Regions from separate parts of the Homo sapiens genome. Here all the other regions are linked to region 1. Evidence: fine-mapped expression QTL. A gene starts in region 1. Each other region holds a variant in brackets. All regions are shown on one strand. Distances are between the middles of the regions.

Evidence for each region. PIP is the estimated chance that this variant, and not a neighbour inherited with it, causes the effect.
Region 2: its variant is fine-mapped to the expression of SLCO3A1 in whole blood (INTERVAL, PIP 0.97).
Region 3: its variant is fine-mapped to the expression of SLCO3A1 in monocytes (Fairfax 2014, PIP 0.95).
Region 4: its variant is fine-mapped to the expression of SLCO3A1 in whole blood (INTERVAL, PIP above 0.99).
Region 5: its variant is fine-mapped to the expression of SLCO3A1 in tibial artery (GTEx, PIP 0.93).
Region 6: its variant is fine-mapped to the expression of SLCO3A1 in whole blood (TOPMed, PIP above 0.99).

Annotation. Positions count from the first base shown.
Region 1 is chr15:91,851,665-91,856,737 of GRCh38, reverse strand. SLCO3A1 (solute carrier organic anion transporter family member 3A1) reads right to left here and starts at 3,030. Exons shown (of 10, transcript NM_013272.4): 1 at 2,650-3,030. The coding sequence starts at 2,829. RefSeq lists silencers at 3,426-3,565, 3,434-3,608.
Region 2 is chr15:91,946,201-91,951,273 of GRCh38, reverse strand. All of the region lies in intron 2 of SLCO3A1 (solute carrier organic anion transporter family member 3A1), which reads right to left. Among named protein-coding and RNA genes, the nearest start is that of SLCO3A1, 95 kb to the right of the region's middle. RefSeq lists an enhancer at 323-1,195. The variant T/C (reference allele first, on the strand shown) is at 2,411.
Region 3 is chr15:92,162,302-92,167,374 of GRCh38, reverse strand. It overlaps SLCO3A1 (solute carrier organic anion transporter family member 3A1), which reads right to left. Exons shown (of 10, transcript NM_013272.4): 10 at 1,472-4,619. The coding sequence ends at 4,240. Among named protein-coding and RNA genes, the nearest start is that of ST8SIA2, 230 kb to the left of the region's middle. RefSeq lists an enhancer at 1,979-2,736. The variant A/G (reference allele first, on the strand shown) is at 2,055.
Region 4 is chr15:91,914,529-91,919,601 of GRCh38, reverse strand. SLCO3A1 (solute carrier organic anion transporter family member 3A1) reads right to left here. Exons shown (of 10, transcript NM_013272.4): 2 at 3,144-3,609. Among named protein-coding and RNA genes, the nearest start is that of SLCO3A1, 63 kb to the right of the region's middle. The variant C/T (reference allele first, on the strand shown) is at 2,937.
Region 5 is chr15:92,025,274-92,030,346 of GRCh38, reverse strand. All of the region lies in intron 2 of SLCO3A1 (solute carrier organic anion transporter family member 3A1), which reads right to left. Among named protein-coding and RNA genes, the nearest start is that of SLCO3A1, 170 kb to the right of the region's middle. The variant C/T (reference allele first, on the strand shown) is at 3,127.
Region 6 is chr15:91,476,255-91,481,327 of GRCh38, reverse strand. The region is part of intron 2 of CRAT37 (cervical cancer-associated transcript 37); the gene reads right to left. Among named protein-coding and RNA genes, the nearest start is that of CRAT37, 15 kb to the right of the region's middle. The variant T/C (reference allele first, on the strand shown) is at 1,900.

The DNA of each region.
Region 1 (5,073 bases):
CTGGAAATGCCTCATTAGAGAGGCAGGCTGATTGCCAAGGTAAGGATCACGTATAACGCACACTTAGCACGTGGACCCTGCCCTGTGGTCCCCTACAGACACAAGGTCTCAGGTTTCCTAAGAAAGCCATGATGAATTAAAAGGAAGAAATGTGCCTTTCCTGCAAACAGCCTGCAATATTTCATTCTCCAATTATCCACAGAGAAGTCTCGCATGGCTGAAGGAGCAAACTTTTTTTCCCCATCTCCCAAATAACAGATGAAGAGAAAACTCTGAAGTGGCCCAGAAGAGCAAAGCCCATAGCAAGCTGCGTCAGTCAACCCTGACAAGCCAACTATTTATTTTCATGAGGCTCCGATGGCAAGGCAAAGACGAGGGCAGCCGGGCAAAGCAGAGCCCTTAGAGCCTTATGCCTCCACTCCTAGTAATCAAAATGAATTCAATTTCCTAGGCCTGTCCTCTCCTGGGCCTCCAGCTGCTTTCTGCAAGTCACCTGTTGACTCCTGTTACCCTACCCCACCCAACCAGGCTTTCCATCAGCGAAGGCTAGAAGTGCCAGGATGCCGCCACCAGGTGGACCGAATTCCTCCTCTGCTTGCCATTCCCCTGTTCTGGGATTAAAGTCAACCTCCTATCTCCTGGGGCCAGCCCTGCCTCCAGAAGTCCACCACTCCAGGAGTACTCGGCTTCTTAACTTTCTAAAGGAGCTAGGCCATTCATCTAGTTGCAGCCCAGCTTCATTTATTTGTCAAATCCTTAGATCACTGCAACCGAAAAATAGTAAGCCCACGCTTTTATCACTCCTGGGGTGAAAAGTTCTGCGGGTGTTTGCCACACATGAATAATGCACTCTACCGAGCAAAATTGGTTTGAGGCAAACAAACCGTTAAAGTGGAGGCAGCTGTTGATATACTAATTACCTCCTTCTAAACATAGACCCGGTTAGGTATTATGTACTTTGCATATGTCACAGTACAGACCCACATATATTTTATTAATGTGAATTTGCATCTCTGTAATACATGTACTTATTTAAATATTTTAACAGTTAAATTTCCCCTAAGGAAGTGCCGATAAACTGACTCCCAAAACACAATTATCCCCTATCCCTCAAATTCCAAGGGCTAATAGGTACTGTCTGCAACTGCATATTATAACTATAGACACAATAAGTGTATTTTATAGAACAGAAAACAAGGTATGCTTTTGACTACAGGGTTCACTTGCAGTCTACAAGTTACGAATGCACAAGACAGAGACCGGGATGTAAACGCTTTTCGTCTCAGAATGAGCAACAGAAATGTATTTGATTTTCAAAAGCCCTGAAATTCTGTCACCCCAGGAACAGAGCTGAGTTTGAAGACCCCCTCTCTCACAACCACCTAACTTCCTCAACACCGGAGACCAAGCACTGCTTGTATTTCCCTTTAACAGTGAGCCCTGAGCCTTAAGAGATAGTTTATGAATGGTATACAGCCCCCAGCGTCTGGCCCTCATGAACTTTACCCCAAGGCCAGGAATGAGGGATTAATCATAGCATCAGGATACGCGTGGTTCTATCTCTGGATGTGGTTATTCAATGGCCAAAATCTTGTCCAATTCTATCTCCATCAAACTTGCTCAGGAATACTCAAAGTCTATGACATTTGATTCCAGTTGCGGGTCAATAGCCAAGTAATGATTTAACACTATAAACTCTCAAAAAAAATTTCCCGTTTAGACAGGACTGTACTTAGGTGTGGAAGCACGCTCTCTGGAACTCAAGTTGCGACCACCTGAGCAGAGGAGGCGAAAGCGACAAAGTAGGTACCTGACAGTGCTGAGTCATTACAAGCTGTTTCCTCTGAAATGTTACGCACCCATGGGCCCTCTGAGCATTAACATCCCCTTTCTGGAGGCAAATAAAATACATATTCATTGTGGAAAATGGTGCAACCTTCTGTAGGCGACAGACCACGATGGGGAATTTAGCACTAAGAGTGGATAGCAGGAACTACACAAACTCGCAGCTGCTCTCTAGGTACCGTAACTTTATCCCAGACGCTCAAAGAGGGCTATAGGGATACCGGGTGGCAATATTCCCCCTGCAGCCCCGGCTCAGGCCAGGGCCACACTAGGGCGCATTTCACTCTAAGCTGTTATATCCCCCTGTAATTGGCGGATGTAGAAAGCGCCCGGAGAAAATGATGCATAATAGATTTGTTCTCGAGGAGGATGCAATGGAGAGTAGAGGACGCAGGATGCTAACTGGTTTTTCTTCCCATGTGCAGGTCACCTGAAAACCCCGACGCTTTTTCGTTCCTCTCCAAGGAGAACCCTGAACTCACCGTCTCGCTCCGCTCTTATGGGGGGAGAGGAATAGTTTCACGCCCACCTGCCCGCCGCCTCTCCTCCCCCGGCACCCCCTGCCCCAGCCGGACGCGCGCGAGCTGCTACCGGCATCAACGGTCCCGCCCGCTACCCGCTCGCTGGCAGCCCCGGCCGGCAGCTCCCCCGGCGGCCGCCTCTGCACCACTCGCCAACCTCCACGCCGGGCCGAGGTCATGCCCGCCTGCCCCCAGCGCCGGGCGGCCCCCTCGTCGGGCCAGGCGGCCGCTCGAGAGCCGGGCTGGGGAAGGGGCCCGCGGCGGAGTTGGCTCGGGGACTCACCAGGTAGGCGCCCACCGTGCCCTGCGCCAGCATCAGGGCGCACTCGGACACCAGGAAGATCTTGATGTTGGAAAAGCAGGACACCTTCTTTTTCTTTTTCTTGTTCCTCTGCGCCTCGTCCCCCTGCAGCTCGCCGCTCCGGCCGCCGCCCGACGAACCGCCCGGCTTCTTCCCCTGCATCCTTCCCCCGCCGCCGCCGCCGCCGCCGCCGCTGCCGCTTTCCCGCTCGCCCCGGGTGTCGGGGCCGCTGCCGGGCGGGGGTGCGCGCCTCGAGGCTGCGTGCTGTCCCCGCCCCGGGTTCGCGGCGGCCGCCCCCGTCCTGCCGGGGCTGGAGAGGTGGAAGGCACAGCTCCTCGCCGCCGCCGCCGCCGCCGCGATCGCCCCTTCCTCCTCCTCCTCCCCCGCCTCCGCCCTCCCCTGGCCTCCTCCTCCGGCTCCGGCTGTGCCAATCACAGGGGCTCGTCGCGCCGCCCGCCGCCGCCGCTGCCTCGCCTCCCGCGGCCGCCCGCCGCTGCCATCGCCCGGTTCCCCTTGCCCGCCGGCCGCGCCTGCTCTCACCCCCTCAGCCCCAGCCCCAAGGCCTGGGCCTGGGCCGCCGCTGCGCGCCCTCGCCGAGCCGCTCCTCGCTGCCGGTGCGCCCCCGGGGAGGCACGGGAGGCGGGCTTGGGATGCGGAGGGCGGCCCGGCGGCCGAGGCTGGGAGGGTCCGGCTGCCGGGAGAACTGGGGAGACCCGGAGTCCTTGCGGAGTAAGGGGGGTGCCCCTGAGGGCGGGAGGCGGCGCCCGGCCCCTAGGTGGCGCTGCGGGGCACGGGGCCCCGCGGCGGAGACTGGCGGCTCTGCGCCGGGCGCGGAGATGGGGTGCGGAGGCGCCCCCGCGGGGCTGGGACCCGGCGCTCGGGAACCCGGGTGCCCAGGCCTCAGAGGGCAGGCTGTTCCCAGGAAGGGAGAATACTGAGTACCCAGGAAGGGCTTGGCGCGCGCTCTTCTCCGCCCGGGGATTTCTGGGGACAGATGTTGTGCTCTGGGTCTTGGGGAGGTGCCAGAGGTCAGAGCTGCTTGAGGCTTCTGCCGCCTGCCGGTTTCTGCCCCAGCTGTCCCCGGCCACAGGGGGTGTTGAAAAGGCCCCAGACCGAAAGGACAGAAAGGGGAAGTTAGAGGAATACGTCGGGAGCCCCACGGACCGTTAGTGCCCCAGCCTCGGTGTCCAGGCGCTGCAAGATCGCCGCGGCCCCAGCAGAGGGCCTTCTCCGGCCCTTCATCCGCCCAGGGCCCCGCTGCTGGAGCGCTCAGCAAGCGGCCAGCCGCAGGCCTGCTGGGTCCCCACCCGTCCCCTGGCTCTGTGGCCCTGGCCACCATCCTCGGCCTTGACCTGAATGCCTGGCCCATGGCAGCCGCTCCTAATTACTCCCCACTCTCACCGTTACCAAGGAGTGTGGGCCACAGGGCACTACCAATAGGATCTGCTAGTTCTCAACTGCAGCGTTTGGAAGCTGAGAGAAAAGCTCAGAGGGCTGGACAGGTACCAGGAAACAGCACCTTCCACCTGGGCCATTGGGGGACTCAAGGAATCATTTAAAACGGTTTCCTTAATAATTGTGTCAAAGAAAATGACCCACTCTCCCAAGCGCCTGTGTCCAAATGCAGGCTCAACTTCAAAACTGAATAGCAATGAACCCGACCATATTTTTCCTTTCTCCCGAAGAACTTGAATGAGAATGGAGGGTGTAATGGTGGGGATGTTGTTTTGCCATGGCATTTAAATATAAACTGCTTCATCCTTCTGTGGCTCCAGACGTGATCTCACCCAGGCTTGGTGTCGCTTTGAGATGCCCTCACCTTGTCTAGGCCACCTCCTATCTGAATTGGCTCCCCCCACACTTGAAGTCTCTTCCCGTCTTCCCCACTTCCTGAATCAGTGGTCACACCATTCCCGGCCAGTCCTATAATGAGAATCCTTACTGCCCCCTTCTTTCTTCCCCACACCCTCCTATCACTCGGAGCCAACTTCTCTGCAGGATCTTTATGTCCCCCTCTTTCCCTCCCCATCACTTTGCTTCATGGGCTACCTCCCCACTTCCTCCTGAGAAGACCCTTGACAAGCTAGCTCTGTTCCCTGCCTCTGTGACGGTAAGCTGCAAAGCTGAGCTGAGACTTGTCTACGAATGGTGACCCCATTGCTAATGAAATGTGCGGAGTGCTTTATAGTCTTCAACTCTTATTTACATTCTTTGTAATAACAAGAGCTAATGTTTACTGTGTGCTTATTATGGCCAGACACCATTCTCAGTGCTTCACCCGCATTTACAACGTAATCCTCACAGCAATCCTCTAAACCAGATACTATTATTAGCCTTGTTTTACAGATGAGACAACTGAGGCCTAGAAAGGTTAACCTGACCAGTGTCACTTGTCTAGTAAGTGGC
Region 2 (5,073 bases), 95 kb before region 1:
CACAGACAGGAAGTGGATAAGCAGTTGCCAGAGGGTAAGGGAACAGGGGATGGGAGAGGATTGCTAATGGAGTTTCTTCTGGGGATGATGAAATGTTGTAGAATTAGATAATGGTGATGGTTGTACTGCCTTGTTAATATACTAAAAACCACAGGACTTTACAATTTAAAAGGGTGAATTTTGTGGTATGTGAATTCTATCTCAATAAAATCATGTACATTTAAGTCTGTTACCTCATTCTTACCTCAAAGCCACATCACCCCCAGGGAACTGTGGGAACTGACTTTACTAAGAGAATACACACAATAGCTTCAGCTCACCTGTCAAATGAAGTGAAAGCCAGAGAAATACTTTTTTTTTTTTCTTTCTTTCTCAGATTGGATATAAGCCACCTGTTGGTGGAGTAAAGGGTGGCTCCCTGGCTGTGGTTCCCAAGAAGTCTCTGTCATCAAATTACTAAAGGCAGAATTAGCATTGCACATACCATAAAATTAAGCATTGCCAAAGACTTTCAACAACACATCAGCCCTCACCCCAAAAAGCAATGACTTGGGACAAGAGCAATCAGACTGGTTGTGAAATACAGAACCAAATGAAGTCAGACAACATGTACATTAAATAAACAGCGGGAAGATGCAGTGCATGAGAAATTGAAGAGAAATTAGGTAAGAACTAGGAACCTCATTCTTAGGAGGCTAGAAAGACCGGATGACATTATGGAGCCTGCAGCAAAAAAACAAAGGATCACACACCCATGTGGGGTGCGCCTGCCATACTGCACAACGTTCCCCTGCAGGGGCTCATCTGCCCTTCCTAATAACCCACCGGGACCCTTGGGGATTAGAGACCCCATTTGGTCAAGGCCTGGGATCAATGGCCAGTGACAGGGCTGGGCTCCCCCTGCCTGCCCAGCCAGGGCCCCTGTCCCACGTGCAACACGACTGGCTGTCTTCACCCACCACTGCAGACTGATCTCTGCTTCCCCAGCCCCCTGCAATCCCCTCCACAATACACACACCCGAATCTCTGGCCACAGCAGGCAGCCCTGAGCATGCAGACTCCATACCATCAGGCCTCCCTACCTCATTCCAGCTGCTTCCTCTGCCTGTTACAACTTTCTTCCCCAGGGGCAGCTTCAATCTGCCTTTCTCCTAAAAACCTCCCTTGTCAGGACTAATTTTTCCTCCTCTACATTTCCACAGCAGGGCATTTATCTCTTCCGTATAGAATCCATCACAGTCTGCCTTCTTTTCGTTGTTGTTTTTTAGAGACAGGGTCTGGTTCTGTTGCTCAGGCTGGAGTGCAGTAGCACCATGAGGGCTCACTGCAACCTCAATCTCCCAGGCTCAGGTGATCCTCCTGCCTCAGCCTCCCGAGTAGCTGGAAACACAGGTGTGCAGCACCACGCTCAGCTTGCTTGCTTGCTTATTTATTTATTTATTAAAGCCGGGGTCTCACTATATTGTTCAGGCTGGTCTTGAACTCCAGGCCTCAAGCGATCCTCCTGCCTTGACCTCCCAAGTAGCTGGGACTACAAGCTCATCTGCCTTCTATATTAAAGGCAACCACCAACACACTTTCATAGGGCTTCACAGCTGCCCAGAACCACGCTGGCAATTCACCTACAGTTACTCTTCTTTTGGGGGGACAGAGTCTCACTCTGTCGCCCAGGCTGAAGTGCAGTGGCACGATCTCAACTCATTGCAAACTCCACCTCCCGGGTTGAAGTGTGTCTTGTGCCTCAGCCTCCGGAGTAGCTAGGATTACAGGTACATACCACCACGCTTGGCTAATTTTTATATTTTTAGTAGGGATGGGGTTTCGCCATGTTGACCAGGCTGGTCTCAAACTCCTGGCCTCAAGCGATTTGCCTGTCTCAGCCTCCCAAAGTGCTGGGATTACAGTATAGTTACTCTTTTACTCCTCACAACTGCCCTCCGCATGGGTACTACCCTTATCCCCACTAACAGATGAGAAACCTAGTGCCGGATCATGCAGCCAGGAAATGGTGGAGCCAGGATTTGAACCCAGGTAGACAGTCTGGTCCTATTGGTCACATCCTTCCCCCCAGCGCCAGTCTCTATGCCAATTTGGGTGTGTGTCAGAGTTATCTGTGTGCAGAAGCAGCTGCACACAGTCTAGCCTTTTTGATGCACCCACCCCAACCACACCTAGATACCTGCATGCAGAGGGTCAGCACTCAGTAAGGACATCAGAACTGCATAAATACTCAAGGATAACAATGACATCTGCCAGAGGGCAGGGAAGTTTACACCAGGGATAAAAATGGAGGGAATGATTCCCCCAAAAGGTGAGGTAAGCAGAAATAATAGTAAAAAAAAAAAAACCAAAGTATTGATTCCTAAATGGATGACAGGTTCCTCAGGTTATTAAAGGAATTGAGGATGGA[T/C]GGTGCTCTGCAGGCTCTGAGACACTTGGCAAGGAGGCTGGCACATGCCACCCAGAATATCTTTGGGGTCATTAGTCAGGATACAGGACCCAAAGGACCCTGACTTCCAACTTTACATCCCAGACTGACTTTCCACTTCCTGTGCCATGGCTCTCCTATTCCTTGGACGGCCCTCTCTTCTCAGGGCAGGAAAACCCAGCCCTCATGTCTGTAAACACAGGGCACCAGAGAGTGGCCCATGCAGGCATCCCTGATTAATTGCCTGTACTGTTTTGAAAGTTTTTCAGCCTTCCTGCAGAGTCTCGTGCACATTCGGCCCTCTCCTGACTTGCACTTCCTTGGGAGAACACTTAGATTAGAAAATCCCCAAATTCCTAACCAATGACTGCTGCTTTCCACCCAGGTGGTGCTGTGTGCATGCCGGCACTCCTACAGAGCCTGTAGGCTTATCTGCAGGAATAGGATGCTGTGGCTGGCACCACACATGCGGCCACTTCTAAACTTGGCAACAGCTCGAGCTCTGGAAGCCCTTCTAGGACAGCTCAAATGCACCTCCCAGGAGCACTACGCAGGGTCACATTTGAGCCCACTGTGGAGGGACCAGCTGGTTGTATTCTCATGCGCCAAGCAGGAGTGGAAAAAGCTTCCCGGAGGTCGGCATTCATTAGCCGCATGGCACTGAAACAAAGGGCAGGTAACAAAGGGCCAGGGCTTCCACCCACTTTCTGGCTCAGACTTTTATTAGGGTGTGGAAAGCTGAGCAAGGAATGCAGAAGTCAATCTCTATTTTATCTCCATTCGTCTATCTGTCATCTGAATTCTGCTTCTGCTCCCACGGCCCTGCTGGAACACCTAGTTGGGAGGATAAACAATTCTCACATGGAACTGGAAAAGCCCCTGCTAACTGGGCTGCAGTCACTTTCGGTCACCTGCACGGGGGCCAAAGGGGAATTGCCAGCAGCTGTGTGTCAATAAGAGCCCCAGGATCCAAGACAGCACTCTGCAGTGTACAGACCGACCCAGGGTCCCAAAGTCACCTGGCTGCTAGGGCCAAGCAGGGGGTACTAACGAGGAAAGCAGTCTGGGAGGGCAATGGGGCCATCGGAGCAACCTGCCCCGTCTAGCTGCTGCACAGACGCTTCTGGCTTCAGCTATTATTGCTCCAGGAGAAGCCTAGATCCAGAGTGAATGTCGGGAACTAACTCACATTTTTAATAAACACTCAAGTGGGTTAAACAAGTGACAAAGGCCGAAGGCAACGATCTGTCGGCCCTATCTATAGTCTACTTCCTGCCCACAATGACCAGGCTCCTAGTGTCATCATCTCAAGACCTAGAAGGATTTAAGAGCTCTCCTCACCCCACAAAAACACTCCAGAGCAGAGAAAAAAGGGAAGAAGGAGTATAGCTTGTCCAGGCAACAAAGCACCACCTGAGTGAGAAGCTAAAAGACACTAACTCTGCCAGCGGCAACCAGACCAAGAGCACGGGAGCTTGTTCGGGAAAGGCCTGAGGATTCCCACAATTTCACAGAATTGGAATTCACAAGCTGAATTTCAAAGATAAGCTGCTTTTCCTATGTCATCGTCACCATATGCCACAGAGCCTCGGAAAAGACGGTCCTCGACAAGGAGGGGTCGTATGATTAGAGGTGCACCCAGGAGGGAGGTCCCAGAAGGGGCAAGCATGGATATTTCAAAGAGCGAAGCTTCCTTTGCCCTGTTGATCTGCCCTCCACAGCCCTCTCAAGGCCAGGGAAGGAAATACACAGGGCCAAAGGCCAAAATAACATCCTGTGGTCACTCGGGACCCGATGACAGGAGCTTGCTTTGTGCTGCTTTAAGGGGTATGACTGGGGATGGAAGAGTCCTCCGTGAGCACCATTGACTCATCCTGTCTTGGACTCATGGACACATTTGATTATAAACTTCTTCCAGCAGCACGCACGGCAGGTCCCCACCTTTGCCATTCCACAATGGCAGGTTCCGTTGGCTAGAAGAATGTTTGCAGAAGGACGCCGACCTGCCCTTCCTCGGAGGGGAATTTTGGTAACTCCAGTCATTTGCTCTTACCCCTTGGCCTTTAAGCATTATGACAACTAAACTGGGAACTGGGGGTTCTGACAGCATGCTTCCTTTTTCATGTAACTGCATCATAGACATATTTAGGAAAAATGAAACAGTATAATCCTCCCAAGTCCTTCTCCTTAAGTGCATTGCACACTCAACCCATACTACGAAGTCCTATTTTTTCACTTGGTTCTCTACCACATGCATTCCAAAGTTACAGAATATTCTTCTGACCACTACCTAATATTTGGGAAATATTCCATCATTTTCATATAACATAACTGACTGAACCATTTCCCTACATACTGGCCACTTTCAAATCTCTCCTGTTTGCCATAAACTCTGAAGGATGTTTCTGTCTACCAGGGCCCGGAGTGCTCCTCACTGGTTCTTGGCACTGCCTGGAACACAGGGTATCTGGGAATCAATGGAAGGTAACACGATCAGATTCACAGGCTGCCCAGGGCTGATCTCACTGGTGAGAGTGTAGGTTAAAAATCAAAGACGTGCAGCCTGGCTCCCTGCCACTGACCAGCTGGGTGACACCAGCTGAGTGGCTCAACCTCTCCGCAGAGAAGACGCTGCCCTAATTATC
Region 3 (5,073 bases), 310 kb before region 1:
TATTTGAAGTGGATTCTAACCTAAGGGGGAACGGTCCCTAAAAGGAAACATGGATCATGGTTGAGAGGAGGTCAATCAGAGGAGAATGGCGTGAGCCCAGTGGAGCCAGCAGGCCCCTGCCATGTGTCTGGTACTTTCCTCTGGCTTCTGGCCAGATATGTGGTTCTCCCAAGCCATCAAGATAGTCAGGTAAGAATAGCACCAGGCAGCGGGAAGTATTCTCCATCTGTTAGACTGAAAAAACTGCATGGTTTCTTCCCTCATCTAAACCAAATCAAATAAAATATTCAAGCAACAATAAAATATAGCGTAACTCCGTCCAACTGCAACAGAAGCTCATCCTGTTTTTCTGGTCTTGACTGTATGATCAGATGCATTGACCTCTATGCACTGACCTTCATAGCTTGCCACTGCTGAGTAGGGCCTTTGGAGTTCCTAGCAGGGCTTAGAGCAGACTGCACAGGTCTGGCAGGCATGGCTGGGTGGAGAAGAAACCAGACTTCCTAGGACCGGAAGCAGCAGGCGGCAAGAAAACCAGCCCAGCAGGCACACGGGGACCCAGAAACTACTTTTCCTTGGAGGTTTTTCTATTTTAGTACATGTATCTATCTCCATTTTAAATGTTCCTCAGTGAATGACCTCCTCTGGAAGGTGTGAAAGAATATCCATTAGCAACCACAGGAGAATCTTTTTCCTGGGAAAATTCCTCAAGAGTGGTGTGACTACCATCCCAGGGACCAGCTGGTTGCCCTTGTGTGGAACGTTTCTGCAGGCTTTTTGACTGTAAGGGCTGGGAAGCCCTGCCATAGTGTGAGTGAGGGGAAGCTGGAGGGCAATTACTGGACACAGGGCAGTGGAATCGGGGGACTGGAATGTACAGATGACACTCAACCAATCTTTAAAAGTCAGCACTAGAGCGAGTTATTCCATGATCAGATGGTGAGAAGGAAGTGATTTTTATGGAGGGGCACGCTCCCTCCTGCTAGGAAGACGTTAGCAACCCTGTCAAATGATTCCTTAGGAGCTCCTGGCTTTCCAGTTATTATTTTGCCTGTTAAGTGTTCCTAGCAAGCTCCTCGGGGGGACCGTGAGAGGAGGCTGCTTCCACTCCTTCGCTAGCTGTGAGGAAAGCCCGCATGCCATGCTGTGGCCTTCTGGAGCCCTGTCCCCCAGGGTGCCTCAGAGCCAGCGTTCCCTGAGAGCACACAGCCTCAGCTGAGAGAAGACAGCAAACCCTGTCCCCTAGAGAGGCATTTTTGCAAAATGTGCTTACTTCATAGGAGGGAATGATATTGGTAGAAAAACAAAACAAAACAAAACAAAAAACAAAACAAAACCCAAACCTTCTTTGTCTCTACGTAGGAGTTACAAAGATCTGTCAATTTCAGCAGAGAGAGACTTTTCATCCACCCTGGGCATGTTCAGCTGAGATGGTGTAGGAGTTTGTAGCAGAAGAGAGAGAACTCTAGCATTCACTTTCTAGGTTTATTCCATCCCGTACATTTTTGTATTCTGTAAATCCAATGATCTTACCAGGAAATCTTTTCATTCACTTGAAACCAAACAGATAATCGAGGGGCTGGATCTAGTGTTGTATGTACAATGCTTCTTTAGAGCACAAAAGGCAAATTAAAACTAGACTGAGTTTTCTGTTCGGTACTATATGAGAATAATTAAAATTTTAAAAGACGACACAACAGAATTCAGAGCCATCCTGCAACAGCGGTCTTTAAATTTATACCCAATTGCTGATAAAACTCAGCCCTGGAGTTGTCTTCCTGTTATTCTAACATCTTTTTCACATTCATCCTAAAATCTTAGGAAAAAAAATCCAAAATGCAAAGAGTTTAAAAAACTTTCTTTTTTTTTTCTCTCAAAGCAAATAGTTCCATAAAACACTAGGTCAAAGGGCCTCAGTGTGTGTGTACTGAGTTTGAAGGGCCAAGCAATAATCTATAAGAGTGACCTATTAGCAATATATTTGCAAAACTAAACCAAAATCTGTACAGGATATTATCAAAGCCTTAGGAACAACAGAACATACATATTTTATG[A/G]AGTGGTTGGAGAACCATCTCCCCTTTAGTAGTTAACGTACTGATGAGTGTCCCCATTTTCATAAGCAAGGACATACTAACACTAAGCAGTTGAAAGGCCTGTCTCAGAAGCATCCTGCCCCAGGTAGCTGATCACGGTGGCCCCATACCACGACACAGCTTTTCTTTTGGTTGGTCTTGCTGAGTGCCTTCTCTAGATTTGGGCTGTCATTCAAGCCTCTTCATTTACAATGTTCATTAAAAATTCGGTACCATACCTGTCCCACTCCCAACCATTTTTTACTTCCTGATTCTTTTGTTTGCCTTGTGGGTAAAATGCAAATGTGTCCAAGGTGAAAAAGCAAACCAATCAACCTTTGAGTTTTTTTTCCAGCGCCAGGAATGTGACATGAACAAAGGTCACTGAAGCAGCATGAGGAGTAAGTTAGCAGGGCCCTTTGTTGTGTGTGTATGAGTGTGTGCCTTTACCTAAGCTCTGTCCCCTTACAGAAATGGCCGTAGAAGGCCTAGTGTGCTGGTTGCGAGAGGTTTTCCAACGTGATTCTTACCCCAAATCATAACAGGTTCATTCTCTGAGGTTCACCCACCTTCAAAACACACAGACAAGGGCCTTAGTTCAAGACTAACACTGAAAATGTCACAGACATTTTCACGCATTGGACACACGACAGCTTCCAGGAGCTTGTGGGTCTATTCGTTATCAGAGATGCTACAGACTTCTTAACAGCTTGTGTTAGGGAACTGTTCTTCTTTCCTATCCCCGGAAGTGTTGCACCCATACACACAAACCCACATCTAAGAGTGTCTCCTCCACAGGCTGAAAAGAACGCCTCTTGGAATGTCAAGCATGAATATAAAAGGGTTTCCCGTGACAGTGATCACTGAATCATGGGGAAGGAAGCTAAAAGGCAAATTTGCAATTCATCACATTATCCCCTGTTGTCTCAAATGTGATTCTTTTAAAGGCAGGCTGCATATACACTCTCTTTTTGAAGCATTTTTTTTTCTTCTTGTAACACATTGTATATTCTTGTTTTTGTAGAATATTCGAATGAGGATAAAATGATGAAAATTACAATAGGTTAATTGCATCCCTTGTATCACATATTTTTGGTGCATTAAAAAAGGAGAAAAAAAGTAAAAGCAACCAGCATAATAAATCCGGCCTAGAGAACTGTGTTAGTGACTTGAAGGGTTAACACAGATTTTAGAAGTAGTTAAAAATAGTATTAGAGGATTATACATACAACAGTTTGAAATTCATATGGATTGTATTTTTTTCTTTTAAAAATGGCAAAATGTTTTTGGCAAATGTAAGCAAATGACTTGGACTGCGTTGGGTCTCACCAGCTCTGAGCCGGGTCAGTCATAGCCAGGCGAGGCCTACTGCTTCCTGAGGTCACTCTGTGGGGCTGGGGGAAGGTGGATGCCCGCCACTGGGAGGTGCTGGCCCCCCACCTGGCTCCCCCTCAGGCCCTCAGTCTTGAACATGGAAATGGAGCTGGTGAGAGGTGCCAATTACAAACTCCAGCACGGATCACCCATTAGCATCACTGAGAGAACTCTGGGGCCTTGAACCACATGCAGACTGGGTGAGTCGTCTACACAGTGACCCATATTGCGAAAGTCAGAGAGAGGAGTGGTGCTTCCACCCCTCCGACTTGTGCGCCCGCCCCCACCCCCACCTGGAGGAAGAGGGTGGCACGGGGTGTGTCACTAGTGCTTAATCTGGCAATGTTTTCAACTTGTGGGTTTTTTTTTTTTAATTTTTTTTATTTTAGGAAACTTCTTTTAAAAAATGTTTTCTGTTTTGTATGTGTATGTGTATCCAGAAATGTCCATCCTCCAAGCTGGCCACCACTGTTCCCTGAATTTGGCAGTGCCTGTTGCTTGCAGCTGTCAGCATCCTGAAAACCATGAGGTGCCTTCAAAGTAGACTCTGTGGCCCAGCCGCGCAAGTGGCCTCCAGGACCCTGCCGCACGATGTCATTCTCTCCTTATTCTGAATCCTGTCTGGCTCTGATGCTGAGAAAAAGGACAAAGTCGGTGTGTCTGTCTGCGTGTGTGTGCATCTGTGCCTGTGTGTGTGTACTGAGTTTTGGTTTTTTTTGGAACCTTTTTTTCTTTTTTTAAGAAAAAAATGACCCTTGGATTACTAATACAGAGTTCAGCCCTCCTTTAGTCACTATAAAACGGACTCCATGTTTTCACACCACTCATGGTCTTCCAGGTTATAGATAAACTTTGTCCTATGTGTCTGGTTTGCGGGCACAGGGTCCCTCCCCAGGTTGTCTAGGGTCAGAGTAGAGGCAAAGAACTCACTGGTGCTCAGCCCGCCCTCGTGGTTTTTGATGTAGCGTTTATAGTTTTTCCTCAGGCACTGCCACGTGGTGGTGTACAGGATGAAGGCGAAGGATTTGAGCGCGATGGCGATGCTGACATACAGGTATCGGTAGACCACATTGTCGTAGAGGACGCAGGCGCCTTGCTCCCCACAGAACGTGCTCCAGAACAGGCAGGTGGAGTCGATGCCAGCCCCGAAGATGAGGGGTGGAGGGATGAAGCCTGTTACCGGGAAAAGAATGTTAAGGTTCTGGATCTGGTGGCCAGTGCTCCCCTGTTCCTGTCTCTGCCTAGCTTTTCTTATAGCACTGCTAGGCAAATATGTCTGACTCCGTGGCTCAAAGACATGCTCAGGAGGCAAAGCGCATGAGTTTGTGTCCCAGTTCTGCCTTTTTATTATGGTACAAATCTGAGCAAGTTATTTAAGCCCTCCTGCCTTAGTTTCCTCATCTGCAAAATGGGGATGATGATAATACTACAGTCTTCACCAGATGGCTGTGAAGACTAACTTTACACATAGAAAGCATCAGTCTGGCATGGTGGCTCACACCTGTAATTCCAGCACTTTGGGAGGCTGAAGCAGGTGGATCACCTGAGATCAGGAGTTTGAGACCAGCCTGGCCAACATGGTGAAACCCCGTCTCTACTAAAGAGACAACCTGGAATTTGCACTGTG
Region 4 (5,073 bases), 63 kb before region 1:
TGACTAGACTCCCAAAGAATGGATTCTCCGACCTCAGTAGGGGCCCAGTGGTCTCCACTGCCACTGCGCCCATGTAGTCACTCTAGGAACAAAGAGTGCCACGTGCCACCCACGGGTCACCGTCTGGCTGCACTGTGAGTCCGGGTGCCGCATGATGCCGCAGTGAAAGCCTGCCAGCAGAGCCGAGTCCCCATTCATCCAGTTTTGTCCCCTGGTAATGAGCTCCCTTGGCTCCCTCCCACACTGGAAAGGACGGGCTGAAGAATGGTGCCAGCCAGAGGAGCCCCTTGTGAATAGCCCATCCAGGAATCCAGGAATCTGGCAGCGGCTCAGCCACAAGAGGCCAAAGCAAGTAAGTCATTTCAGTGGAAAATATCGGCTTGATTCAAGATGGAATGCTTCACTTTGCCCTGGGTTGTAGTGGAAGCTACGACACGGCCACCGATGTACAAACAGCACCCATCTAGTGACCCACAATGCGGGTGACCCGGGGCAGGTGTCATCACCACTGATCTGCAGCCTGAGCTGTGCATGTTGATCATTCTGTTCCCTGCTGACACCCAAAGGGAAGGCTCAGCTCAAGAACAAGCTGGTGTTTTACACATGCCATATTTAGAATCCTTTCAATCTCCACTATAGTGTCACGATTTAGGCATATGACCAGACAATTGGTTGTGGGCCCCTCTCTAGACCAACTCTGCAGGAGCTGGAACCAGGGGTACACATGTTATTCCTCCCCGATGGATATACAGTTACACCTACAGTCCCAGCATCAGTCCCTTGAGACTTTCCTCCTCTTCAGGGAGTTAAGAGGCCAGAATTTTATATCAATCCTGTTCAGTGGGCTACCCCAAATACTGTGAAGTAAAGTTAAGTGGCTTCAGGAACTAGTGCCATATTAGAGGAGATAAACTCTGAAATATTCTCACTACCACAAACACTTTTTTTATAGCTCATACAATAAATAAATGAACCAGTTATACTCTGCATATGCTATGATCTTAAATTATACCTGGAGAATAAACCACATATGGAATAAAAGGCCCCCTATTGAGGCCAATCTATGCAAAAGACTTGTCCTCTCCTGATCCCGATAAACACAAACCCATGTAAACCAGTGCAGAGAAACCCAGAACTATCATCTCCATGGCATGGGCTACGATGTTTTGGAATCTGGCCATATGTAACAGAGCCACCAAGATGTTCGTATGTCATGCAAAGAGACACTCCCCCAACTCAGACTTATCACAGAGGAATGGGGTGACCAAATAGAAATTTGGCTGAATAGTTCTTCCTACCAAAGACTCAATGCAAATCCCACAGACAAGGCCTCAGAATTCAAGAAGGCCTTCTGCCTCAAATGATCAGCCCTACTGTCCACGCCTCCACCTCCCACACCCCCATGTCCCAAACCAAAGTGCTTCCTCACCATAAAGCTTTTGGCACATTCAAACCAACCCTCACCCAGTGTGGGGAAACAGCACAGCTTAACTCATCAGGAGACACTTCCAGAAGAGGGTTCAGTGACTACGGCTGGAAGCCCCAGGCAGAAGTGATACAGCACTGTTAGGACTTCAGGGGTGACTCTGGGGAGAAATTTTTCTACTTGATTCTATCAGCAGAGACAACAATTCAGGTTTTCACTCCCCATTTCATTCCCTGTGCTCTGATTGATCTACTTCCTGTTATTCCTACCAGAAAACAACTCTCCCAGAGCCCTAGGGTGACATCAGTCAAGTCAGAGGGTGGACCTCAGGAGACCTTTGTGGCTACATGCTGTAGTCCATGATCTGGTGTGCAAAAAACTCACGTGGAGCGGCTTTCACTCAAGACTTAAGGCAATGAAAGAAAAATGATTACCTTAGTTTCCCTTCCTCCACCATAACCACTCTCAGGTAATAATGGAAACCCCTAACCATCTCTGGCCTGAGCCGTTTTCTCTTCCCCTTTGTTCCATAGGTAGCTGGTGACTAGGCTCACTGGTGCTCCATCCTCTGAATGGAGAGGCGCATTCCTTCCATCTTTCCTGCCCAGAGCCTGCTCACAGCCAGCCAGAACATCCGCGTGCAACATCCGTGTTCAGTAAACGCGTCTACTCCAAAGCTGGGCCAGAAAGACACAGAGAAAAATCTGCATTTCGGTGTGTCCTGCTTCCAAACCATCCTATCTCAGCAAGCTTGAAGCCTGGCAGATAGGAACCTTTATGTCAAATCCAGTTCAAATTCTATTTTCACTTAAAACTCCATAATATAATTAACTTTCTACCTCAAGGCACATTGCTTTTGGGAGGCATAAAGCTTCCCTGGGTAGAGGTAATGTTTTCAAAGCTTAGCACTCAGTGACTGGGGATGTCAGAAAAATCCAGCAGCTGGCAGGAGACAGAATTATACTTTGTAAACAAGGGATAGAGATGCGGGGCTGGCCAGCCCTCACCTTGCACGCTGCCATCCAACAGAGCCCACCGCAGCCACTGAAAACACTGCCCGCCACGTAATAAACAACTTGCCACTCAGATGATTCTTAACCCCCACGCACAAGTGGTTTCCATCCTTCCAGTATAAAACATCAGAAACTCTGACCGTGAAAAATAACTTTTCAAAACACAAATACCTTATTTCTCTCTACATACCCAATTCCCATGCATACTTCCATTATTGAAAAAATTACCGGAAGTCACCAACTTCGAATGATGCCAAATGCTGGCAAAGCCATCACCTCTCCTTTTGAGCTGCAACAGGACAATGACCAGGACATCATTCTGATTCTTCAAAGCTGGAGTTTCCAATGTGTAGACCCCAAGTATACCTTGGTGGCTAATATCAGAAAGCCCAAAGTCCACATACGCACTCAAAAAGAAGAGATAAACATACAACTCCTCCCGATCATGTTTTCCCACTGAAGCGGTGTTAGTGGTCTAGCCCCGTGGAGCTCAAATT[C/T]GGCCGCTCACAAGAATCACCTGGGAACTTTTAAAAACGTCTCAATGCCCAGGTTGCACCCCCAGGCATGAGTATTTTTCAAGAACACTAGGTGTGCAGCCAAGTCTGAGAACCAGTACTCTGGCAAAATCAAAGTCCACCAGGCCACCTTTTATCCATGGTCAACACACCCTGGTCTCTTGCTAATACGGCTGGGGCAGCTCCTACCTATATAGAGCGAGGAGTCCTTCCTCCGCACGTGGTCGTCGATGTAGGAGACGCCCAGGGGCTGCACAGGGGTAGCACCGATGCCCAGGAGCACCTGGGCCCCAATGAGCAGCAAGTACATCATGTTGGTAGCCGTCCGGTTGCGGCAGATGAGGTCGGGGTCGGGCCCCTCGTCGCCGCCCGAGCCGTTGGCTGCGCAGACGTCGCGGCCCTCGGCGCCCCAGCGGATCTCGCCCGCCTCGTACTTGTACTGGTGGGTCAGGAACTCGGGCAGCGCCGACAGCAGCGCGCCCAGCGCCATGACGATGCCGCCGCAGCCGATCAGGCGCGGCCGGTGCCCGCGTGCCCCGAAGTAGCTCACGAAGAGGATGAGCGCCAGGTTCCCGATCTCGAAGCTGCTAGCGATCACACCCACGTCAGCGCTCTGCAGGTTGAACCTACGCTCCAGGGTGGTCAGGACGCTCACCTGAGGGGGGCAAGAAGAAAGGTCAGAGCCAATCCAAGAAGATGCCCAGGAAGCCTCTCCTTCCCGCCTGACAGTGCGCTCTGCCCATCCCCCCCGGGACCCTCCCACCTGGCCTCCGGTGCCAGGTGCAAAAAGGCAGCTGTGTAAATGCCTTTTAACCTGACGAATCAGAAAGACGTTTATTTAGTATCATAACCCTAATTCAGTTAACGAATTCACTTTCCCAGTAGCAACAATGTTTTTTCTGGCACCTGTTTCCATCCTGAAAGCTTCTACCCTCTTCCGGAAACACTGCATTCCCCACCCCCACAGACCTCCACCACAGACAGCCCATGAAAACCTATAAAAGTCCTGAAGTGCGCGGTTTGCACACACTCCCAAATATATACTAGGGATAAAGTCCATGCCAGGAAGACAGAGGAGCCAGGAGATTTTCCGCAGGAGGTTAGCAAAGCCTATCCCCCACCTCAAAATAAAAACAAACTTAACAAAACCCAAGTGGCAAAATGCACAAGCTAAATCAGCCCAGCGGGGTAATCATTTGCTCTTTGCTTCCGTCTGGAAATTTCCAGTGTACATTTCCCCAGAGGCCATCAGGTAAATACACCCCTGACTGTTCTAAGCACTATGACCCTGCCAAGTACCCTCCAACTGAATATTATGATTTCCCCCGTTTTTTTGTATTCTTGTCTGCCCTATGTTTGTTAAACATATACCGAACATCTGCTGCTTGCCAGGCAATGCCCTAGACACAAGAGAAAAGTGATGGAGAGAGGACATCTGGCCTGAAGAAGCCATCTAGCAAGAAGGTAAACATGTACCTAAGAATAACACAAAGGGACTGGAGGTGAGATGTGTGATGCAGACCTCACACCAAGGGGGCCATGAGGAGATGCATTCTTACAGGGCTTCTTAAAGTGGTAAGAAAATGAGATGGCTACCCTCTGCTGCTGTGTGCAAATTCCACGCAGGGTGCTGTGAGCAAGACAAGAGTCCTTGTCATGGGAGATCTGACAGCTGAATGATGTCCTCGCTGAGTAGGGAAGAACATTTCAGGCAAAAGGAACAGCATGAGCCAAAGATAGGTGGCATGATTTCATCATGGAAGAGAAAATAGCTGGGGCCGGGAGCAGTGGCTCACACCTGTAATCCCAACACTTTGGGAGGCCGAGGTGGGCAGGTCACTTGAGGCCAGGAGTTCGAGACCAGCCTGGCCAACATGGCAAAACCCCTTCTCTACTAAAAATACACAATTTAGCGAGGCGTGGTGGTGCATACCTATAATCCCAGCTACTCAGGGAAGGCTGAGGCAGGAGAATTGCTTGAACCCTGGAGGCGGCGGTTGCAGTGAGCTGAGATCACACCACTGCACTCCAGTTTGGGCAACAGAGCGAGACCTTGCTTCCAAAAAAAAAAAAAAAAAAAGGAAGAAAATAGTTGGAAAGGTGGGGTGAGGACAAATTG
Region 5 (5,073 bases), 170 kb before region 1:
CACTGTGGATTCCCAGGATGAAATTTTGTTATTTTGTAAAGTTCTTTTCTCTTGGTATTCATCTAAGAAAAGCATCAATTCATAATCTCAAGGCCATGAAAGGAGGGTAAAAAAAGACCAAACTGTGTCTAACACGTAGCTTTTGAAAACCAACTAACCCTTTGGGGCATTTTGTGGGATAAAACACACAGAAAGAATCAACAGGAGGATCGCATTCAATTTTAAGCCAAACTTTGCTATGCTATGGTAGGAACGTGGGCAGAGCCCGTGTTCAAGATAAATGCCCAATCCCCTTTGGGACTCCTATCACCAACTGTTACGAAAATGTAGCCGAGGACATTTTATTAGAGTAATAATGCAACGGTTGAAGCCAGACTGAGCCGGCAGGCTGCAATTCTTAGCAGCTCCGAGGTAATTGACCTGTGGCCTTTTGGTTCACAGACTCTTCACCTGAGCCAAGAAGGTGCCTGATTGAATCATAGATCTTTTATCTCTCATAACGTGAGACGGAAGAGTTCTATTAAAAATGTATGAAGCCAAGTGAGCAGGCCTCAGCTGCACTGGGAGCCCAGATCCTGGGGCCAGAGGCCATTCACCTTTCCTTTTGACAAAATCTTATGAAATAATTCATTTACACAGTGTCAGCGCGACTACATATATGTGTTTGGGAAAAAAAAAATACAAGGAGGGGAAAAAAAACAGTCAAAAATGTACTTTTTCCCTGGGTTGTAGGAAAATGATTCTTATTTTCCTGCTTAGCCTTTATTGTGTTTCCAAATTTTCTACAGAGAATATGTATTTCTTTATGAGAAAACAAACATTTTTCAAAAACAAATGTTCACATGAGTCTTTGCCCAGGCACTGACTACGTTTAAGTAGGTAAAAGATGCGGAACGGAGAGTTTATATATGGACACCTACCAAGCCTGGGAATAGTCTCTGGTTGGGTCCAGTGCAAACATCTTTAATCCCCAGAGCAAAGGGGTCCTGCCGCTCATGCCCACTCCAGGGCAGGAGCCTGGCTGGGAAGGCAAAACAATCCCTGATAGCTGTTCCCATCGCCAGGGACAAATCCTAAATTTGGCAACCTCAGGAAGTGAACAAGTTTCCTTTTTTTCCCCCAGGGTCAGAGACCTGGCATAGAAGTATAAGAGGCTGCGGAGTTTTTAAATAAACATTTTCCTCCCCAAGAAAGCCATCCAGTAATTATAGCAAACTTTCCCAGAAGAGATTCCATTTACCGCCTCTCTTTTAAGAAATTACTTGGCAACAGGATGTAATTTAATTAAAGTATTTACTTAAATGTATGTCCTCTGGGGCCTGAAGGAAACAGGACATTTTTCTAATCAACTGGCAGTTTTGGGGGTTGTTTGACCATGGGTCAGGGGTTTTCTCATGTACGTACACACACACACACACACACACACACACACACACACTTGTGCCTGCAGCTGAAACAAGAACGTCAAGATCTCCTAACTGATACGCCAGCAAAAAGCAAAACACTCTCATTTCCAGATCCTACAAAAATTCTTGGGAATGCCAAACTTCTGGCATTCTCCACTTGGCTTCGGATCTAATGGAAAAACCCCTAATTGCAGCATCTTCTCCACAAAAATCAGAAGCAGTGATTTTATTGTGGAACAAAATCTACTTTGCTTTTTAAACCCAAGTCCTGATCATTCTAGCTTAAAACGATTATATTTGGGCTGTCTGAATATTGCATTAGGTCCCAAATCCTGATTGGATTGGCTGGGCTCTGGGTTAGACTGTCTCTCAGATCTGAGGGCTGGAATTTGTGTCTTTTCTCTCCTCATCTTTTCTCTCTGTATTTCATTAAAAATGTATCCCCAGGGCCTAGAACACTGGCTGTCTAGTGCTGTCGGCGTTCAATAAACATCTGTAGAAAAAATACTTTTGCTGAGTGAAGCATGGTGGCGAACATCCTGCAAATGTTGAGGGGCAGGAGCCGGAGCTATTCCTGGGGTCAGCAAAGGCCAGGGTGGGGGGCAGATTTTGGTGCTGTGGCTTCCCGAGGATGCTAATGGGAACCTGGAGGCCTCGGATTTGGACTCAACCATCCCCTGGCTGGGGACTTCAACGGACTTGTGGAAATTCCCAGGAGGCCCCCAGCCATTCTGGTACCATCATCACCTGACATACGACCGACCAGCCTCCCCCACTGTGTGCTGCCCTCTCTTCCTCCACAAGAGACTCTGGTCTTTGTTTCCCACATGGTGCTCAGAGGCACCCAGTATAAACAGCAGCACATAAGCAGAGTGATGGGTTTTGTGCCCACTGCTAAGTCTCGGCAGAAATTCTAGGGAAGATTCTCAACATGGTTTGTGCAGATTGAGCCGAACGCTGTGATCAGAGGAGTCAGTGCAGGCTCTTAACTGCCCACATCCTTGTCTCAAACTCTGCTCCTAAGCTTCCTCTTGCACATTCGTGCCTTACCTGAAAACTAAAATAAACTAAAAACCAAGCTGCAGACTTGTGCACTTTGCAATGGCAGTCGAGGTTTCTGTCCACGGGTGTGACAGATTATTTTACGCGGTCCTGTTTTCATGATCTATTCCTCCAGCCTGTGCAAACTGCTTCGTTTATGTGGTAAGTGTGTCTTTGTGTTTTCGTTAGGGACATGGATAAAAATGTTGAACGGCACAAAGCAAAAGGCACAGTCTTGTGGCACTCCACACCAGGGGTCTTTCCAGACCAATGTCAATCCTTTAATGCATGCGTCGGGAGCAAACTGTGCAGCTTACAGAAGTCCTTAGAGAGCACTGCGGTGCTGTGGCCAAAGCACGGGTGAAGACGACAGAGAAACCAGGATGAGACTCCTCTTTGCTGCTGCTGGCTGTGTGACCTTGGGCAAGTTGCTAAATCTCTGAGCCTATTTGCTCATCCACAATATCGAAAAAAACGATGACGGTACCTTCGTCAAATGGTGAATTTGAGATTTATGTGGGACAACGTATGTAAAGGCATTAGCCTGTGTCTTACACAAAGTTTATCTCTCAACAAATAAAGCAATGTGGTGTTGTTTAGAAAGTTCACAAGGATATTAAAAGAACGTTTGTTCTACATCTCCAGGAAATCACGTATTTAGCATTTATTGTCACAATAC[C/T]GACCCTATCAAAAATGTAATGCATTATTTGGCTTTGCTTCTTTTTAGAGAGCTCATGACAACTCCCAGAGATCTTCTATCAAAGCTCACCATCTGTTTAATAATGTACCCCCCCTTTTTTTTTTTTTTTGGAGACAAAGTCTCACTCTGTCACCCAGGCTGAAGTGCAATGGCACGATCTTGGCTCACTGCAACCTCCACCTCCTGGGTTCAAGTGATTCTCCTGTCTCAGCCTCCCAAGTAGCTGGGATTACAGGCGTGCACCACCACACCAAGCTAGTTTATTGTATTTTTAGTAGAGATGGGGTTTCACCATGTTGGCCAGGCTGGTCTTGAACTCCTGACCTCAAGTGATCCACCTGCCTTGGCCTCCGAAAATGCTGGGATTACAGGTGTGAGCCACTGTGCCCGGCCATAATCTATGCTAGACATTTGGTGGGAATGTTGTTACACTCTCTCATGAATTGTCCATTGTTTTCAGAATCCATCTTTACCAGTGTAATGAAAACCATGACGGTCATGGCCACCTCCTTTGTACATGTCTCTTTCCTTGTCCTGCATAGCTTTTTAAAATAAATAACTGGTTACAGACCTATGAACTCACATCAAATTCTCTGAAGAAAACGGAAAGCAGAAATCATAGAACCCTTAGGGACCCCTAGACTATTTTTTTTCTTTTTAATTACTGTGGACTCTAGCTGCTTTGTAAACCTGTTTGTCCCACACTTTCCATTTTAAGGCATTCTACTCAGTAGGAAAAATAAAAATAAAACAGAAGCTGATGAGTTCTACTTGCTCTCAGGTATTTGTTAAACATACCACCACCTGCTCTCGTCACTTCTGTCTCCTTAGTGAGAAACTTCTTATAGGCTGTGGAGGAACAGTCCATTAGACAAGGAACACACACCTGCCTTCTCCATTCTTTCCTTCACTTTGCAGATAGGAAAGCCAAGGCTCTTGTTTCTTGCCAAATCTAGTAGTCAAATTGGGAGGTCACACCCAAGACTGCAGTTCCTCTGCTTGCCTTTCCTAACGACAGTTAAGGAGTTACCGGATGGAGAAACAGAGACCCATCCCTACACTTGGTGACTGGTGGTGGACAAGGGCATGGACACGGGCTTGGACACGTGCAGGGTAAAGAACTGCACCAAAGCCTCCCTGCTGCACACAGAGCAGAGCTCTCAGGGATGCGCTGACCTGGGGCAAAAGAAACAGGCCAAAGGACTGAGATATGTAAACAATCAGTGCCAACAGCAGATCACTCTAGCTCAATAAAATGTCTTTACAAGGTAATTAGCAGTTCATAAAATCTGTTAAGTAACTTAGAAACCCGTGTACCACTCTTCCAGCATCTCCACTGCTAAAGGACCCTTGGGAAACATTAACTCTTACTGCCATGCATCACGCGGCATCAGCAAGGTAGATGGCAGCCACTCACGGCCGGGAGAATTCAAAACACTTCCTTCTGCCTTTGCTGACTGAGAAGAGAGTCCCAGATCATCCCAGTTTAACACTAAACTCATAGAGACAGCTACGGGAATGGTTGGGGAAGGAAAAGAATTGATCATAGCCTCATGTCCAGCCTCAGTTTGCTCACATGTGGAATAGGATATACCTGCCTTGTAGAGTTGTCACAAATCAGAAAGCAAGAATGGAAAGTGCCTGGCCCAGAGCCTAGCATTCTCCAAAACAACAAGTGGATGCCACTGATATGTTTGCTAGCCACAGTAGCAGCAGCAGCAGTAGTAGTAGTGGTAGCAGCAGCAGCAGCAAGAGCAGCAGCATTAGTGTCATCGCTGTTGCTGCAATTAGCTTTTGTGCCTATGGTGTCCCCCATACATTTCTCTCAAGAACCCTATGAAGTATCATCCACAGCCTTAAAATAAGAACTTAAAATTTAGGAGGGATTGGCTTGGCTTACCTTTGAGCCTGTATCCTTAAGTGCTT
Region 6 (5,073 bases), 380 kb after region 1:
GGAAAGGACCAGATTGCGATGGGCCTTCTTTCAGGCCCTTAGGGTTTATTTTCTTGATGGCAAATTTGCAAAGGTTGTATTTGCTTGATGGTGCTTAGGTTTGTAATGCTGGAGTTATGGCTGCAAGACCTCTTTTCATACTGAAATTCCTTTGGGAAAAGTCATTTGTATTTGCAAGTCTGCAACTGCATCCCAACCCTTGTTCTTTACCAAAACTTTTGTTATAAATGTCACAGTTGTGGAGTTTATTAGGAGTGGAACCCTCACCATAGACCAGGATAAACTGTGCTGTGCACAGTTATTTTAGGACCAAGTAAGCCGAGCTGCATGCTGGTTGTTACACCACCAGACTGTGAGCCTAAGAGCAGAAACTGTTTCATAAATTGATCATTGAATTGTAGGCATGAAGCCTGATGCCTGGTACATAGTAGCTGATCAACAATTAGCATAAAATATATTAGGGAGTTTGCCAATTCTGTTGCATGTGATAATTATTCCATTTCAGTACAGCTGTTTACTTTTATTAATTTTAAATATACTGTATACCAGCAATGTTCTAGAAATCATTTTAGGTAACCACTCTACTTTCAAGAAAAGCATGTAAAACATAAAGCATGATCCCTATAGTATTAATCTCACCCATGCCTTCTGTCTCCTGCTTACACAGAAATTTCCGTTCATTAAGACTACAGGGCTCCCCGTGGGAGAGTTTATGCTGACAACTAAGATTTTAGAATCCAATAAAAGAGATAACAATCTCAAATGAAACTAAAAAACTGTACAAATGAAAACACATATTTAAAAAGTAGCTTGAATGACCACTTAGAACAGGGGCCCGTGCAGCCCAGGCTTGGACTGGAGTCACTCTCGCAGACCAGCCATGAAAAATATTAACACATGGCCAGACATGTCTCCCATTTTCAGGTGAATCTGAAAGGGGATGCAATGAATAACCACAGCAGTGCCTCTCACTACTCTCTTCCCCTTGCCTCTTCCTCCCCATCTTTGTCTCCTGGCTCAGTGACCCCAAGGTTTCCCCACCCCTTTTCCCATGATCTCCCCAAATCCCCCCCCAGCCCACCAGTGCCTTGTTTTTGGCCTCTTGCAGCTTTCTTCCCATCTTTATTGTTTTTCCCCACAGATAATTTCTGTTCTTTCCAAAGCAACGCTCACCCTCACATTTCCAGTTTTGTCTTTACCTCCCCATTGCTCCAGTTACTGCAGCCAGAGTCCAGACACCAGACTGTGAGGCCCAGCATCTAAGGTGGCAGCTGCAGAGGGCCCCTGGCTTGAGGTCCAAGCAGGATTCTCTTCATTGTGCAGAGAAGAGGTAAAGATAACAAACACTTGTCATAGAAAACATTTTCCTTTAGCCCTATCACCTATGCAGAGCTGTTTTACTTGCTGAAACTGTCCCAATATCTATTGGAAGAAAATTTTTTAAAAAATTACCTTTTTAAAAAAATATTGTCACTCCTTAAAAGATGCTCTCCAAATAAGGCATAACTGTAATGAAATCCAAACACCAAAACTGATGTGAGACCAAATAAACATAGAGGCAGGGGGAATTCTGAGCCAAGAACAAGGAAGCTAAGAAAAGGAAAGGTGGTTGAAAATAAGGCCCGGAGGTCAGGGAGGCCCAGGTTCATATCCTGAACCCAGAACTTAACATGGGTGGGATTTGGGACTTGTCATGCAATAGTGCTAAAAGCCTCTGTGTCTTTGCTGTAAAAATAATAGAGTAATCTTAAACTGTTAAAGGCATGAAAGAGAAAGTGGTTAGCAAAGAGTTCAGTCCACACTAAGTGCTCCTTGAATGTTAGTTATTATGATGATCGTGTGTATTATACTCAAACCTCAACTCTAGGCCTGTTTATTTCCAGAACATCAGGTTTTGCA[T/C]GCATTAATGTTATAGAGTGTTTCGTATTTTTTGTGAGACCTTCAATTCTTATTTTAAAGTTTCTTATTTTTCCCCATTGTTTTATGCTTAGATATCATAGCTTATTCTACAATGTATTCTTGGAGTTTTCTATAAGCCTTAAAACAACTGAGATGATTTCAAGTTGCCATCTAGCGGAATACCATATATGAGGTTATTGTCATATGAGCACATACATCCACACACACACACACAAACACTTAGGTACATATGTGTGTATGTGTGTGTATTCTTTAAGCCTTAGTTTGCATTATTAAGTCACCAGCTTCCAGCCAGTTCTCTGACAGTGTCATCACGACAGACAGGCTGAGCTAAGTCCTTTCTAAGGGTGTGCTGGAGGATTTCATATACATTTTTCTATTTATAAAACACTAGTGAAACAATAAGCTATACTCCAGGCAGCCTGAGGAAGTCTTATGAAATTGTTATGATTTGTTTGTGAGATAGAGGACAAATTCCATGGTAATCTTCACCGAATTTTAATAAGGGTGAAAGGAAGACTTAATTAAGGAGTTCTTTGTGGCTTTTTTAAAAAAAAAAAACACAGCCTCTGCAAGCACTTCCCCATGGCGTCTTATCGCTATAGTACAGACACAGTTGCATCTTTATCGTGTGCGGCAGGGGCTGAGGCACAGAGACACATAAAAATAATGGCAATGCATTTATTTTTAAGGACACAACACTGTCTGCTTTTCTTTCAGGCATCCAACTTCTGTGCTTAGATGTCAGTTCCTGTGTTGAAGCATGGGTCCTATCTAACCAGTTTTCTGAGAATCACGGCCATTGCACTTTATAGTAGTTTCCAGAGGATAAATTTTTCTAACTGCGGTTAGGGCGGGGTTGTAAAATAGCATATTTTTGTTTTAAAAATTCGAATGGGGCCTAAAGAGTATTTAAGAGAGTTTAACTCCTGTTGCGACTTCTTCAGCTACTTACCCCTTGGTTGCAACCAGTATAAAAGCTGTGCAACTTGGATGTTCAATGACAAGAACTTGGTTTTAAAAAATTAGGGTACATCCCAGCCGGGCGCGGTGGCTCACACCTGTAATCCCAGCACTTTGGGAGGCCGAGGTGGGCGGATCACGTGGTCAGGAGATCGAGACCATCCTGGCTAACACAGTGAAACCCCGTCTCTACTAAAAATACAAAAAAAAATTAGCCGGGCGTGGTGGCGGGCGCCTGTAGTCCCAGCTACTCCAGAGGCTGAGGCAGGAGAATGGCGTGAACCCGGGAGGCGGAGACTGCAGTAAGCCGAGATCGCGCCACTGCACTCCAGCCTGGGCAACAAAGCGAGACTCCGTCTCAAAAAAAAAAAAAAAAAAAAAAAATTAGGGTACATCCATATGAAGGGATGTTTGCCTTTTTTGTGCAATTTTGAAAAGTGATCTTGGAGAAGAATGTATATTACCATGAAAATAAGTCCACTAAGTGAAAAGAAAAAAAAAAATACAAAGCCACATGGACTACATGATCTAATTTTGCTTAAAACACAAATCAACAGAAGTGATGCGGAAATGTTAGTATTATGGGTGATTTTTACTTTCTTCTTATCTGCATATTTTGTATTATCTACAATGAAAAGGCATTCATTTTGTACTTATTACAAAAAAATCTTTAAAATGCAAGCTATGGTTGTGGTTGTAGAGAAGATGGATTCAAGACACACCACCCTGTCTCTCTCACTGAACGCACCTATAATGCTTGAATAGAATGCAAGAAAGAACTATCTGATGACTGTAACACATGGATGATAACAGGTGGATGGAGAAAGAGAACAGACTTTGAAGTCTGCCTGAACCAGTGGTGAGTTTACCATTTTTTCCCTTCAGTATCATCCATCCTGAAATCAAAGGCATCCTGAAGCCCAGAAATCCACACCAAGTGTGGACAGAAAGGCCACAGGGAGAAGACTTCTCTTGTTCTTGTCTCCCACAGCGATGCCCAAGCAACACTCCAGTGGCACTGGCAGCAGCATTGACAGCAATGACAGCAGTCGTGCACCTAAAACTCTGAGGAAAGGGAACTCTTCTCCCTTATCAAAAAGAACTGTGGTCCTTTGAATTTTCAGTGGATACACATTGCTATATGTGTTTTGCCTCTGTCTCCTCCTGTCACTTGGTCCTAGACGTAGGCACAGTTGCAGTAAGTTTGCATGATATTGGGGAAAATAGAACTCTAGATTTCTAGCCAGAGAACTGAGAAGAGAGGACGCAGGGAATAAGTGTACATTGGTGAAATCACAGAGAGGACAGGGATCAAGAGCGTGACGCCATAAAGTTGTGTATGAACTCCTGAGTGCGCCTCCTACCTGTGCATTTGTCAATCTGAACCTTATCAGCATATCACAGGCTTTGAGAATTGAGCTACGGGGCCACAGACTAGCCACTGGGACTGTTCTCAGCAACAGTGAAAATACTTTGAAAATGGAATTATGCCAGACTCAGAGAAGGCAGGTCAGAATTTGCAGACCAAATGTAATCAGGGTGATTGCATGCCAAAACAACAGCAACAAGAATTACAAAGTTAACATTCTCTTTAGCATTTAAATAAGACCCAGGGTCTCATCATGTCCAGAATATAATCCAAAATTAATTGGCATACAAATAATCAGGAATATCTCATCACAATAAAAAATATAATTAACAGACACCAACTCTAAGGTTACATAAAAGTTAGAGTTAACAGACTTCAAAGCAGCTATTATAACCATGTTCCCCAAATTAGATGGTCTAAACATAACAAATAATAGATTTAAAATGTCAGAATGATTAAAAATAAACCCAAATATATACAGGTACTCCCTTTAAGAAACCCTTTTTATATAGGTGGGTTAAAAGTGAAAGGAAGGACTAAGATATAAAATGTGTACATTAATCAAAAGAAAAGTGGAGTGTCTACATTAATATCAGATGAAGTAGATTTCAGAACAAGGAAAATTACCAGGGATAAACAGAACATAACATAATGGTAAAAGAGTCAATTCATCAAGAACTCCTAATAATCCTAAATGTATATGCACTTAACAACAAAGCCTCAAGCTAAGTGAAGCAAAAACCAATAGACCTGAAGGAAAAGAATGAAGCCACAGTTATAATGGAAGACTTCAACACTCCTTCTTCAGACATAAGTCAAAC